Homo sapiens: one gene and its partner. The protein of the gene in region 2 purifies or fractionates together with the protein of the main gene of each other region. This does not show direct contact. Each region holds a gene or a part of one and is shown on either strand. Other genes may lie near its edges.

What was found. Proteins that work in one complex are often made in the same cells at the same time.
Region 1: the proteins of CLEC2B (region 2) and USP22 purify together in Homo sapiens (co-immunoprecipitation; 2 studies listed by BioGRID and IntAct, with this or other methods). This does not show direct contact.

What each region holds. Positions count from the first base shown.
Region 1 is NC_000017.11:21,015,512-21,019,011, reverse strand, and holds part of USP22 (ubiquitin carboxyl-terminal hydrolase 22), read left to right. Parts: intron 1-900; coding exon 901-1,070; intron 1,071-3,112; coding exon 3,113-3,260; intron 3,261-3,500. UniProt on the Homo sapiens protein: Deubiquitinase that plays a role in several cellular processes including transcriptional regulation, cell cycle progression or innate immunity.
Region 2 is NC_000012.12:9,859,203-9,863,055, forward strand, and holds part of CLEC2B (C-type lectin domain family 2 member B), read right to left. Parts: intron 3,372-3,853; 5' UTR 3,370-3,371; coding exon 3,297-3,369; intron 1-3,296. UniProt on the Homo sapiens protein: Membrane-bound protein expressed on myeloid cells which acts as a ligand to stimulate the activating receptor NKp80/KLRF1, expressed on the surface of natural killer (NK) cells.

The DNA.
Region 1 (3,500 bases), on a different chromosome or scaffold from region 2:
TTCTTAAGTCCACATGATTCTGTTGAAGCCCTGCATAACTGTCACTCATCAATGTGCTCAGCAACCAGCTCTTGAGCACCTGTTCTCTGCAGGGACCTGCAGTGGGCTTGGGGCGCAGAGTGATGCGTAGCAACAGCCCTGCCCTCACAGCCTTCAGCGTCTGTGTGGGTAAAGGGACTCAAGTTGATTTTGGCCAGGGTGAGGCTGGGCACAGTAATCTTCAGGGAGAGAAATGATGTGTGTGAGTGTAAGTGTTCGCTGAATTTTCTACAAATTGAGGGAATACCCTTTAAAACTTTTTCTTTTTCTTTTTTGAGACAGAGTCTTGCTCTGTTGCCCAGGCTGGAGCACAGTTCACTGCACCCTCTGTCTCCTGGGCCCAAGCGATCCTTCCACCTCAGCCTCCCAAGTAGCTGGGATTGCAGGTGCACACCACCATGTTTGGATAATTTTTGTGTTTTGCGTAGAGACATCTCACCATGTTGCCCAGGCTGGTCTCGAACTCCTGGGCTCCAGTGATCCTCATGCCTTGGCTTCCCAGAGTGCTGGGTTACAAGTATGAGCCCCTGCCCTGGCCCTAGAACATTTTTAAAAACCTGTTTTGTTTGTTCATTAGGCTTCACTCTGACCTGGCCTGTTGTCGTAGAAACTATATTTGTGTAATTCTGTCAAAGCATACAATGGCTGAAGTGGGAGGGGTCCATGGTGGTGGACATTCTTCAATACCGTTCATGTAAAAGTGGCATAAAAACTAGCAGAATGCGATATCTCATCGTGTTCTGGCTTGAATGAATGAATAAAAGAAAATGAGTATGTAGAGGTAGAGGAAGCCGCTGGGATCCAGCGACACCTGTGGTTCAGCACACAGGTAACTCCTGCTCTCTGGTGATTTGTGTCCAGGTCTGCGTGGGCTGATCAACCTTGGGAACACATGCTTCATGAACTGCATCGTGCAGGCCCTGACCCACACGCCACTTCTGCGGGACTTCTTCCTGTCTGACAGGCACCGCTGTGAGATGCAGAGCCCCAGCTCCTGTCTGGTCTGTGAGATGTCCTCACTGTTTCAGGAGGTGAGCGCCATTGACTTCTGCAGGGGAACATTTCTGTTACTTTGTTTTCACCTTCAAAAAAAAAATTTAAGGTGGACCATGATAAAGGAAGATACATTTAGAACCTTTTGTAGTAAGTTAATGTTTAATATACATGTCTATTATGGAAAACACAGTTTTCCAAAAAGGGAAGACCTGGCGTGATTTTTGGGGACGCACTGCTGACTCAGAACAAGGAGAAGCCCTTTGAGAGGCTTGTGGCAGAGACTTCCCTGGTGGGTGACATTTGTCTCTAAAGACGGGTGATTCTCCCCCTTCCTCTTCCTCCATGGTCTACCTTCCTGGCTCAGAAAGGCACGCATGTGTCACCCTCCTGTGTCCTCCTGGTATGCGAGTCTCCTCCACCGCCAGGTCTCTCTAAGCATGCCCCATCAGAGCCTCTGTCCTCATGAGCTACGCGCTGCACGTTGGCTGTTCCTGTGGGCTGCACGTGTGGCGTTCCTGTCCACTTCTGTCCCCGGCATCAGAGCATGGCAGCGTTCAGAGCAAGGCGTTCACGGCTGCCGCCTCAGCCCTCACCGGCTCCGTGACCTAGACATGCTTCTCAGAGCTGAAGCAGCTCAGTTACCTCAACTAATAAGCAGGCTGGTGCCTGTTCTTCAGGTGCCTTGCACAGGAGCCAGCCAACAGCCCTGGCCTGTTCCCATTCGTAACCTCTGCGAGAGATGCAGCCACGCCAGCTCACTCATGTCTGTCTGGTCACTGGTCGCTTTTGTGGGACAGCCACAGAGTTGAGCAGTTGGACAGAGGCTATCCAACCTGCAAAGCTGAAATTATTTACTGTCCAAGCCTTTCAAAAACAGATTGCCAGCCTCTGGTCGAGCCTAACCGATTTCCTCAAAGTACCTGCAATGTGCCATAACTGCTGGGGACACGGCCCAAATAGGAGAAAGGAGGGTGCAGCTGGGAAGTTGGTGGGTGGTTGTATCACTGACTTTAGTGATAAGCTCACTTGTGTTAGATTGTTTTTAGACTCCGGCTTGTTAAGGTGTAAATTACAGTCACACCCACCTTCTAGCCTATAGATAGATGAGTTTCGACGAATGCATAGTTGTGTAACTGCTGCTACTCAAGATGAAGAACTGTTACCTCTCCGAACTCCCTCGTGCCCCTCCGAAGTCAACCCCCAGTCCCCAGACCCTGGTAGCTGCCGATCTGTCTTCGGTCCCTTGAGTGTCCTTTACCAGCGCATCATACGGATGGATGCATGCAGGAAGTAGCCTTTCTGAATCTGGCTGTCCCTACTTAATGTAATACTGGGTGGATTCACCCGTGTCTTGCGTGCATCCATGATGTGTGCTTTCGATGTCTGAGTTGGGTTCCATTATGTAGATGGGTTATGGTTTAGTTGTCTGTTTCCCAGTTCAGACACATTTGGGTGGTCTGTGGTTTTGGGTTTTTTGATGAGAAATAAAACTGCCCTGAATTCTGTATTTGCACAGGCAAGACCCCTCTGTGGGTTCTGACCTGGGGAGGAAGCCGTGGGATGGAAGGTGTGCTGCTGGGTCTGCGGCTGGAGTTGAGCTGTTGGAGAGGACTGGCTGGCAAGCCCTCAGCTAATTGCCATTAGCCTCAGAGGCAGAGAATCCTGTGGCTGATGCTGGTGAATTCTGCATAATCACAGTGATGTGCTTCCCTTTGCGGAGGTGCTGGTGTCCATGGGCCTGAGTGGTTTGGCTAGTGCTTTGAGGAAACTAGTATTGGGCAAATCGAGTCACTTTTATTTGCATGTGATCTCATAGTAGCAAGTCATAATTCATTTTTTAGGCTTATATGTGGAAAACTAGATGGTAGAAAGGAAAAAATTCATATGAGGACTCGAAAAGTCCAGTGAGCCCAGATAAAAATAGACTTTGCAAAAAGTAGAAAAGTAAAATCCAAACATTTGTGTCAAATGAGCCACAGCCAATGGTAGGCATCTGATAAAGGTTTTGATTGTGTGTACTCTGTGTTCAGAGTCTACATTTATTCCTGACAAGGTTTCCTTCCCCGCCCTCTGGCAGTTTTACTCTGGACACCGGTCCCCTCACATCCCGTATAAGTTGCTGCACCTGGTGTGGACCCACGCGAGGCACCTAGCAGGCTACGAGCAGCAGGACGCCCACGAGTTCCTCATCGCGGCCCTGGACGTGCTCCACCGACACTGCAAAGGTGGGCCCTGGGCTCTGCACCCTCCACCAGGGCAGGATGTTTTCCTTGAAGGGGAAGGAAGCAAAGCGAGTGTATGCACTCGTGCAAAAAGGGGCACAGGTGACACATTCCATTGTTTTGTCATCATAGCCCTTGTCGTCATTTGTTTCTGAAGTCACCATAACTAATGACCTCAGAGAGGCTCCTCCTAGTTTATTTTTAAGAGGCGAGGAAGTAGTTCCAGCAGTATGACAGGTCCTC
Region 2 (3,853 bases):
AAAGATAATTATCCTACCTTACAAAGTTAATAATAGTGATAAATTAAAACCAAAGTAGAAAGACACAATTTAGAAAACAAAAAGAACAGAAATCAATTGAATAAAAAATTAATGCCAAATAGAAGAAAAGTTTAAAGTCATAAGATGACTTTTGTTGAATACTCTAAAACAGGATTGACCACTAGGAAAACTGATTTTAAAAAATGTAACTGTGAGAGATAAAAACACAAATTAGCAACACAAAGAATGAAAAAGTAGAGAAATTTCTAGAAGAACACAATTTAACACAACTGACAAGATAAAAGCAGCATATCTAAATAACACTATATCTAGTTAAAAAATTAAATCTTTAACTTAAAAAATTGCACAAAAAGAAATCTCCCTGTCCAGATGGCTTCAATTAGAAATACTTCTAATCGTTTAGGAAAGGCATAACACCAACGTTATACACACTCTTTCAGAAAATAGGATAGGAGGGAATACTTTCCAACCAAATTTTAGAAGCCATCATAATCACATCAATACCTGATAATAGTATTGAAAGAAAGAGAAACTATAGGTAGATCTTTTATGAAGACGTAGGATATATGTGCATATATCTTAAAATACTATTCAGCTTAATTGAAGAATGTTAAAAGGTTAATAGGTTATGATCAAGTTGAATCTATCACAGAAATTGAAGATTATCTTATCTCAATATTACAAAATCTGTGTAGTTCTACATATTAGCAGAGAAAAGAAAGTATCTCAATAGATCAAGATAAAGCATTTGATATTTTAAATTAAATTAAAGGGAAGTAAATAAAACACCTTTAATCTGATTAAGAATATCTGCAAATACTACTACTAAATTGGGAAATATTAAAAAAATTTTACTGATTTAAGAATGAGACAAACATGTAAGCTGTTACTACTTATACTCAACCTTATACTGGAAGTTATAGCCAGTAAAATAAGAGAATACAATGAATAAAAAAGGCATAAGGTTTCCAACAGAATAGGTAAAACAATTATTATTTTCAGATAATGTAAATTTTTACATAGAACTTGCAAAAGAAACTGAAGAAAATTTATGAAAATGAATAGTTAACTATAGCAAATTTGTTATATGAGGCTTATATAGGTATATATTAAATTTATATAGATAATTTTTATAGGCCAGCAAGAGACTAAATAGGACAATAGTGTTAATGAAAATACTTCTATGCTAGTTACAATTGCATTATAGCGCATTGAGTCTTTAAAAAATTCTTAAAAGGATGTGTGTGAAATCTATTCTGAAAACTAAAAAATTGCTGGCAGAAATTACGGAACACCGAATCAATATTTTAAATGTATGATTCAATATTAAGATAATGATTCCATGAAAATTGACTATGGTTTAATGCAATCTCAATCAAAATTACAGATAATTTATATGGCAGCTTAAAGGATCTAAAATGCTCCAGGTAAACTTGAAGAATAAAAATAAAACTTTTAAAACATTTAAACAACCAGACATCAAGACTTAATTATAAACCAACAGTATTGAGACAGAATGATATAGATACAAAGATAGATAAAATAGAGTAAATTAATGTAATAAAATTTTAGCAAAAATGACCTTCACCTACACAGTTGATTGATGACAAAGACCAACTGCAGTTGAGTAGGGAAAGTATAGTCTTTTTAATAAGTTATTTCAGGTTGAAAGATTAACTAAATGGGAAATAATGCATCCTAATATCTATCTCCTAAAATTTATAAAAATCAACTTCAAGAGGACTATATTTTGGAAAGTGAAAGGAAAATAGAAACCCTACAAAAATATTTTTATGTCTTTGAAGTAAAGTGAATTTCTTAGAATGAAAAATATAGTGACAATAGAGAAAGACACAATTACACTACTTTAAAATTCAGAAGCTCTGTCGATTGAAAGACATGACACAGAGGGTAAACTTCAGCTTCATAGTTAAAGAAGATATTTGCAATACCTATAAACTACAAAGAGTCTCATCTAGAATATTAAACAACTCTTATGAACCAAGCAGAAAAAGAGAGCTAACTTACTAAAATATGGGGAAAGTATTGAAACATTCCCATCACAAAATATTACACCTAAATAAACAACAATTATGAAGGTACTGAACAGTATTGATCATCAGAAAAACGTCAATTAAAGCCCAAATCGGGTAACAACATGCACTCACTGGAATGGCAAAAATTGATAAAACCAACAATAAAGTATTGACATGGCATGGAGCAATTGGAATTCTCATATACTTCTGCTGAGATTATCTACATTTTTGGTAAAATACACTTAAGCTAATCTATGCGTATTCTGTGCTTAATAATTCTTCTTATATCTCAAGTTATTTCCAGTATTCATTAAAAGACAAAAATATAAAATTATACAGTTGTTCACAACCACCCAATTTGCAATAGTCAAAATGTAACACGATCCAAATGTTCATCAAAAGTGATACATAGCAGTGAATGCACTATACTAAACATCCGCTAATACAGCCTGAGGCCAACTCAGCTCACCTTCTGTTTTTGTACAACCACCAGGTAAAAATAATTTTTACATTTTAAAAAGAAATAAAGTAATCAAAATAATTAAAAATGAACAATATTTTGTGACATATAAAATTTTATAATATTTACATTTCCATGTTCAATTTTATTGACACACAGCCATGGTCAATGTCTATGCATTTTCTATGACTGTGTTTCTATGAAAAATTAAGTAGTTGCAGCAGAGACTGTATGGCTAACAAAGCATAAAATATTTACTATCTGGGTCTTTTTATAAAAAAAATTTCAACCTTTTTCCATAATAGTGAGTTAATGAACTTCTGCTACCTATGATGACATTGAAAAATCACACAAGCATAATGTTGAATAAAAGGGAAAAGATACAAAGATACATGCAAATTGCATGACTGTATTTATGATACATGCAAATTGTATATTGTATTTTATATGTATTTAAATTTGATTATATTTATATAAAATTTTTTAGTAGGCAAAACTAAGCTATAGCAATAGAAGTCAAGATAGTGATTAACATAGGCAAGAAAGTGTTGAATAGAAGTGAGATTATCAGGGTGAATAATTTTACCACAATAATTTTGGTATCTCTGATGCCTTACATAGGTCATGTAATTAATAAAATTTATTCATTTGTACCAATTAAATGTTATCATGTATAATGGGAAGATAATGAGATACTGAGAAAAGATCATGACTGAGACAGAAAGGAATAGGATCACACATAGAAAGCCATGAAAAATAAAATGAAGGATGTAACTTACCTATCAGAGTAATAATATTAGTTGTTATTAAAACACCAACAATTATAAAACACTTTTTATGTTTGGTCATCATACCTGAAAAATAAAAATAAAGACATTTAGGAGACTTCTGGCTCCAAAATGATGGCATAAAAGTAAGTTGGCTTTAATGTCCCCCACAGAAAACAACAACAAAATATTAGTGCTGTGATTATCCCCAGCAATATCCTAGAATTCAAATATGAGAAGAAGACAATTCCTGGAGCCACAGGAAAGTGAAAAACCAACAAAAAACTCCATACAGATAATAAGAGAATTAGACTTCCATATCCATGAGGACTCTCCCTGCAATCTTTCCGGTACCCAAGGGCATGGAAACATCATTTCTATACTGGAAAAAGTGAGATCAAGATGGATAACCAGCTTCCCCACCAGCTTGAGTTTCCTGGCAGGAAACTTGCCCCTGCCTTAACACTTGGGAAGCATCGGGGTGCCTGAACGAGGACAGGCAGAGACAAAGTGGGGAGGCAGGACTACCATCCCCAATACCAGAAACTGTGCTCTGTTACTTGGCCAAA